2 linked regions of the Homo sapiens genome follow. The protein of the gene in region 1 interacts with the protein of each later gene in a biochemical or structural test. Each region holds a gene or a part of one and is shown on either strand. Other genes may lie near its edges.

Region 1 (3,649 bases):
ACTGTAGCCCAACATTGGCTGGAAGTGTCTCCTCACACACTATGCTCCTCTCCACAGTGTCCTGGCTGAGCGACTGGAGAAGTGGCTGCAACTGATGCTGATGTGGCACCCCCGACAGAGGGGCACGGATCCCACGTATGGGCCCAATGGCTGCTTCAAGGCCCTGGATGACATCTTAAACTTAAAGGTGAGTGTGGAGCCAAGTTAGCCCTGAGGCAAAAGCTGGGGTCCCCAGTGGAACATGCAGTTCTTAGGACAGAGCAGGGGATGGGGCCAGCTGACCTAGTGAGGAAATTTAGGCTCCTGCATCAGTCTTTCTGCATAAGTAAAGAAAGGACAGTTGTGCTAATTGACATTGGCTATGAGGTCATAGCCACAGACAGGATTATGAAAGATGCAAATATGCGAAACATGGCACATGACCTCCCTCCCTCAAGCTAGGCCCTTGCTTTGTGTGGTTGGGAAATGTTGGGAGTAGCAGAGAGAGGACCTAGGCAAATAGATGGGCATTTCCTTGAAGAAATCGGTTTTCCAGTAACATCTGGGTTGTGTTGCAGCTGGTTCATATCTTGAACATGGTCACGGGCACCATCCACACCTACCCTGTGACAGAGGATGAGAGTCTGCAGAGCTTGAAGGCCAGAATCCAACAGGACACGGGCATCCCAGAGGAGGACCAGGAGCTGCTGCAGGAAGCGGGCCTGGCGTTGATCCCCGATAAGCCTGCCACTCAGTGTATTTCAGACGGCAAGGTGAGCCCTGGCTTCGTACACACCATCCTGTTTACCTTGGCTGTGCCTCCTGGGAAACTCAACACACTTTCAGATTTCAATTCTGCTTTGTCATGTAGTCTGTTAATCACACAGTGCGGATACCTGGCTGGTTTTTAAGTTGGAGTATGGTGTCCTCTGTGTGGCCTGATAGGAAACACAAATCTCCTTGCTGGACTTGTTACTTCCAAACCCTCCAAGACCGGTCTCTTGCCTTTATTGCAAAAAATGATGCTATAACACTCGAATCTCTCAAGTTGCCTGCTTGGCCCTCTTCCAAGTGTACTAAAAAAAAAAAAAAAAAGGATGCTGCACTTTCTTGAGTCAACTGAAAGTATTTATGATGGCCTCTGTGTACAGAACTGGGTTAGGCACCTGTGTTAACTATAGCTGTGTAAGACATGACCTCTGCTCAAAAAGACCTTCTCAGCTGACTTGTGGAGCTAAAGTTATCATATGAGAAATAATCATTGCATAGGGAAGTATATAGTGAATTTCTGAACTTCCCAGGGAAGACAGAGAGTAAAATAGAATGTAATACGTTTGTAAATAAAGAGTGTGTTCAGACAGTAAGTGTGGCTGGAAACGTTAAACACTTCATGGATGCTTCCTACTTGCTGGCTGAAGATGATGCTCTTGCTGAACAGTGGGGAAAGCTGTGGAACTTCTTCATTATCAGTTAGAAAAGAGAGGGTTGGATCCACAAGATTCATTTTGTCCTTGTCCCTTTGCAGTTAAATGAGGGCCACACATTGGACATGGATCTTGTTTTTCTCTTTGACAACAGTAAAATCACCTATGAGACTCAGATCTCCCCACGGCCCCAACCTGAAAGTGTCAGCTGTATCCGTAAGAATTTGTTATGTTTTGTTTTTCTAAATAATCCGTTATAATATGTGGGACAAGGCAGGGAAGGGAGACTGGACTAAGGAAGGGGGAGCCACGTAAAGGAAATTAATATCGCCAGTCCTCAGGGCAGCCTTCCTTATTTAGGACATGCAAGGAGTAGCCAGGCAAGAGAGAGTACAGGAAACCATTAGTTAATTTCAACCTCCTAGGACGGGCGTGGTGGCTCACACCTGTAATCCCAGCACTTTGGGAGGCTGAGGCAGGAGGATCACTTGAGCCCAGGAGTTCAAGACCAGCCTGGGTAATATAGTAAGCTCGCAAGTCTACTAAAAATTTAGAAATTAGCCAGATGTGGTGGTGCATGCCTGTAGTCCAGCTATTCAGGAGGCTGAGGCAGAAGGATCACTTGAGCCTGAGAGTTCAAGGCTGCAGTGAGTCATGATCACCCCCACTGCATGCCAGCCTGGGTGACAAGAGCGAGACCTTGTCTCAAAAAAAAAAAAAAAATTCTGTTGAAAATATATGGCCCTATATACATATGTGTCCAATGGTTCGTAAAGTGTTCCTTCAAATCAACAGCTACTTATTGACCACTGGTACATGCTGTTGGTACAAATACATGTATGTGACAGTAACCAGGCATAACACCCTCCAAAGTTACATGATCCTATAGTAGGTACAAAACGTGAAAGTGCCAGTAGTGTCGAAGGCAGGATATGGTTAATTGTAGGAGAGTTATTGTGGTTATTCTTTGACAATTGCTTGTGTCTCTGTCTCCAGTTCAAGAGCCCAAGAGGAATCTCGCCTTCTTCCAGCTGAGGAAGGTGTGGGGCCAGGTCTGGCACAGCATCCAGACCCTGAAGGAAGATTGCAACCGGCTGCAGCAGGGACAGCGAGCCGCCATGTAGCGTGCCAGGCTTTTTTTTTAAACTTAATTTATTTAAAATTCCTTGGTGGCTTTGGCCACAGGGAGGTGGTTGAGGCAGGGACCCAGAAGCAACCGTTATGAGCAACAAAAGGAAGACACTGGTTTGGATGGACGGGAAGCGGTTGGGTGGGCTGGACTGACGGAGGCCCCTTTAGACCTGGCGAGGTGAGTGTGGTTGGCACAGGGTGAGGAGTGTGGAACTGAAGCTGGGCTGGCCAAGCTGTGGCTGGTTTGGGAACCCAGAGGAGCTCACTACCATGTGGATTAGCAAAACTCCCCTGACCGTGCTGCTGGGGACTTACGGACTCTTTCCTCATTGTGACTCGTTTGCCAACATTATTGGCCTTTTGTGTCTTCCTTTGCCTGATGTCAAGTTTAGTGCAGAACCTCAGGCATTGCTGAGGGCTAGGAAATTGTCCTTGGGTTATAAGTGGCTGCTATAATAATAGTGATGATGATAATAATTATAGCAGGGACCTCCCTTGACATTTGAGGGGGTTTTGTTATTGTACAGGAAATGGAATTTGGATCCCAGAGATGCTCCAAGACTGTTCCTTGTGGTCCCTGCAGGATGAATCTCCTCCGAAACAACAGCTGCCTCTCCAAAATGAAGAATTCCATGGCTTCCATGTCTCAGCAGCTCAAGGCCAAGTTGGATTTCTTCAAAACCAGCATCCAGATTGACCTGGAGAAGTACAGCGAGCAAACCGAGTTTGGGATCAGTGAGTGTGCACTTTGCAATGAGTTTAAAGACACCATTTTTTTTTCTTTTTCTCTTTCTAAGGTTTCTTTTGTCCTATTATAATTGAGTTGCTTATTTCTGTTTCAGTTTTGTGGTGTTTTTATTTTGTTTTGTTTTGTTTTTCCTTCTCAATTTTTTTTCAGCATCAGATAAACTGCTGCTGGCCTGGAGGGAAATGGAGCAGGCTGTGGAGCTCTGTGGGCGGGTAGGAGACTCATTTTGGGTTTCGGAACTTACCAAGGGGGTGAGATTTTGTGCTCCCACTTTTCACTTTCTCATCAAACACTGGGTCGATCTCTGTCAAAAATCAGGTGTTCCTCACCATGCTTTGAGCTTAACTGGACCAGCTGAAAAGAGGCC
Region 2 (3,557 bases), on another chromosome or scaffold:
GCTCCAAAGCACTTCAATTCCATCAATTCAAAGACAACCTCATCATCCCTCAAAAACTAGGTTCTTTCTCCTGCATTCCCTGACCATCCGCCATCTGCCCTGTCACCAAAGCTAGAAACCTTGGAATGATTATCTTCTTTTCTCTCACTCCCCGCCAGTAACTTGACATATATTTATCAAGCACCTACTATGTGCCAGCCTCCCTTCTAGACACTGGGGATGTGGCCGTGAGTATGCACACAAGGTGTCTGCTCCCAAAAAGTTGGCATCCTAGTGAAAAAGTGAGAGGGACACAATCATATATACAAACCAGAAAATCTCGGCCAGGCGTGGTGGCTCACGCCTGTAATCCCAGCACTTTGGGAGGTCGAGGCGGGTGGATCACGAGGTCAAGAGATCGAGACCACCCTGGCCAACATGGTGAAAACCCCGTCTCTACTAAAAATACAAAAAATTAGCCGGATGTGGTGGCGGGCGCCTGTAGTCCCAGCTACTCGGGAGGCTGAGGCAGGGAGAATCACTTGAACCCGGGAGGTGGAGGTTGCAGTGAGCCGAGATTGCACCACTGCACTCCAGCCTGGGCGACAAGAGTGAGACTCTGTCTCAAACAAACAAACAAAACCAAACCAGAAAATCTCAAGTGACGGTGGTCCAGGGACGATATGGTGATGTAACAATACTGGAAGTGAGGTCAGGACAGTCTAAATGTAGAGGGAAGGGCTAATTTAGAGGTCAGGGAAGGACTGGCATGAGCCACTTGCATTAAAACCTTGGGCATTCCAAGCAGAGGCAACAGCTAGACACAGGTCCTGAGGTGAGACTGAGCTTGGTCTGTAAGACGCAAAACGGCTGCAGGGCTGAAGGGTAACTGAGGACAGTGGTGGAGATGTGATCTTGCTCTGCTATTCCTTCTGTAAGGTTTGTGCCGCATCTTCTCTTCCTGGACTACAGCAACATTTCCAGAATGGCCTCCCTGCTTTGAGTCTGTCTGTCTCTGATCTTCTACACGTGGCCTCCTGAGTCAACTTCCAAATCTGCTCCTGTCACCTCTCTGCTTAGAGGCCTTCAGCTTAACCAGGCCCTCCAATCTCTGAGCCTGCTCACTGCCCAACATCAGCTCAAACCACGAAGGTGGCCCTGAATAGGCCGTGCAGTTGCCAACACCCCTTCCCTTCCAGGTGCTGGGCCACCTGCCTGGAGAACACACTTCTGTGTCTTTCTCCAGCTTCAATGCCACCTTCTCCATGCAGCTGTCTCCAGCTCCCCGGAGGCCACTGTGCCCCCGTGCTTCTCTGCGCACACCTCCATTTCACATGTCATTCCGTGACTTAAGGATCTGTTTTGCACATTTGTCTTCCTCAAGTGACTGAGACTCTGAAGGGCAGGGAGCATGTCTTACTCATTTTTTGTATTCACAATACCTGGCACAGGCCCTGGTACCAAGTGGACACTCAAACCTCGACCAAAATGTGGCTGGGCTGTATGGTAGTGACAAGACAACCAGTGTGGCAAAAGGATCCTGAAGCCAGATGGCCTGGGTTCCAACGCTGACTCTGCTAGACTCTGCTACTTACTAGCCACGTGAACCCAGGCAAGTTGGACACTATCTCCTACTTCAAAAGGGTCATGAGATTAAAATCAGGTAATCCAGTGAAGTGCCTGGAATAGGGGCAGATGTGTAGTACTAGCTCAATGTCTGAGGTATCATTATTATTAAATGAGGCAAGAAATGGATTCCAGTTTCTTGGATCCCAAGCTCTGACTCCAGCTTCTGGCCCTCAACCACAGCCCCAGACATGCAGTCTTGGCCTCTCTCTCACGGCACAGAGCCCAGCTGCCCTGATGCTGCCACCCCAGCTGTGTACCTGTATCTGGCAGGTACTGGAATTCCATGGGCTCACTGAGCTCCCGGTCGGAAGGCCGCCGCAGCTGCATGGAGACACGCACAGGAGCCTGCAGGCTGGGGTCTGCGTAGGGAGGGGTCCGGAACACAATGGCCACTTGTCGGTGCACATCAGCTTGCGAAAAGGAGCCTCGGGCCTCCCAGCCTGGTCCCGTGAAATACACCTCAATGTCCTCTGCAGGAGATGCGGTGGCAGTGTGGGTCAGTGTGTCTAACCCTCCATGGTCTCCCCCTCAACTTCTGATGCTTGTCTTCTGATACATCACCCTTCGGCCCACCTGAGGCCCCCGAGGCACAGGAGGAAGTATCCAAAGCCAGTTACCTGACACTCCACTTCTCTGCTCAGCTTCACCCCTTGCTCCCAAGAGCCCACCCCTGCCTCCTGATGTATACCTTTCTGCACCTTGTCACACAGTAGGAAGATCTCATCCCCACCGAGGCAGCTGCCAGAGTTTCGGTTCACTCGGCAGATCTTGAGCTCGGCAGTGTTGGGGGCACCTGAGGCAGTGAAAACAAGGGAGGATGACCTGAGCCACGAGAGGTCCCCAGGGTGGCCTGCAGGAGATGCAACTTCCCTGCCCAGCCCAGAGTCAAGGTTGCCCAGAGCTTGCCACCTACACCTTTGTAGCCAAAGTCAGACCTTCTTATTAGCTCCTCACCCCAACCGATTCAACAAGTATTTGCCTACTGTGCACTCAACACTGATCTAAGCAAGAATACGACCACACACAAAACCCAAACCTCTCTGCTCTCCCGGAGCTTATAGTCCAGTGGGTGCCAATCTGATCACACTCTTTCTCCACCTGACCAAAGCAATCTTTAAGGCCAGTCCATACCCACCTTGGCAATGAGCCCTTCCCTCCTGACCCCCAGTTTATCCTGGTTTCCCATCCTTGGGGCTCCAGATTCGTTTTATTTCCATTCATCCTGCTGGTTACTTAACTAAAGACTGCAGCTGATCAGTCAGCCCAATTCATCTGTGGGCTTCCATCACTGAATCATCATTCTCGAACACTATCTTGTTCCTGGGAGTTCATTTCCTAGAGTCATTATCGCAGTTGTGGGCACACCACCTTCTCATCACACAATACTGAAAATGCCCATCTCCCATCAGACTCTCTGCTAGACTTCCTGCCAGGCCAGAGCTACACCTCAAGGACAGCTCTGGGTCTTCTTTGCCCTCTCTCCCCAGCCAACAAAGAGCTGGGCAGAGAAGAGTAGACAAATACGCAAGATGATTGAATGAAGCCAGAGCGCCTCTTGCAGGCCACACTCACCCCAACCCCCTTCCTCCTATTCAGGCCCACCCTCTCCCCTTCCTGCGTCTCCCTCGCTACTCACGATTGTCAAAGATGGGATGAGAAAGGACAGGCGGCAGGCGGAGGGGCCTGCCTGATGGGTCCCGCACTGTCACCTGGAAGCAGAGCCGCACAGCATTCAGGTCGTAGTCCCCACGCTGCTCTTCTATAGGAACTGCCAAGAAAACAGGCGATCAGGAGAGCAGGGGAAGTGGGGATATAGGTGCTATCAGTGGGGGCAGGGAGCTCTGCGCTGGGAGGGCCGCTGGTGCGTGTGTGAAACACAAGTCCTAGAGGAGGCAGAACCCAGCACTGACTCCACTGTGGCCTGAATGTCATGTCCCCTCCTGGGACTC

Evidence for each region. Proteins that work in one complex are often made in the same cells at the same time.
Region 2: of the proteins of IKBKB (region 1) and RELA, one has a biochemical effect on the other in vitro, tested with the Homo sapiens proteins (4 studies listed by BioGRID and IntAct).

The regions. Positions count from the first base shown.
Region 1 is NC_000008.11:42,316,153-42,319,801, forward strand, and holds part of IKBKB (inhibitor of nuclear factor kappa-B kinase subunit beta), read left to right. Parts: intron 1-57; coding exon 58-187; intron 188-557; coding exon 558-752; intron 753-1,504; coding exon 1,505-1,619; intron 1,620-2,399; coding exon 2,400-2,523; intron 2,524-3,117; coding exon 3,118-3,269; intron 3,270-3,432; coding exon 3,433-3,494; intron 3,495-3,649.
Region 2 is NC_000011.10:65,656,422-65,659,978, forward strand, and holds part of RELA (transcription factor p65), read right to left. Parts: intron 3,377-3,557; coding exon 3,245-3,376; intron 2,402-3,244; coding exon 2,297-2,401; intron 2,079-2,296; coding exon 1,866-2,078; intron 1-1,865. UniProt on the Homo sapiens protein: NF-kappa-B is a pleiotropic transcription factor present in almost all cell types and is the endpoint of a series of signal transduction events that are initiated by a vast array of stimuli related to many biological processes such as inflammation, immunity, differentiation, cell growth, tumorigenesis and apoptosis.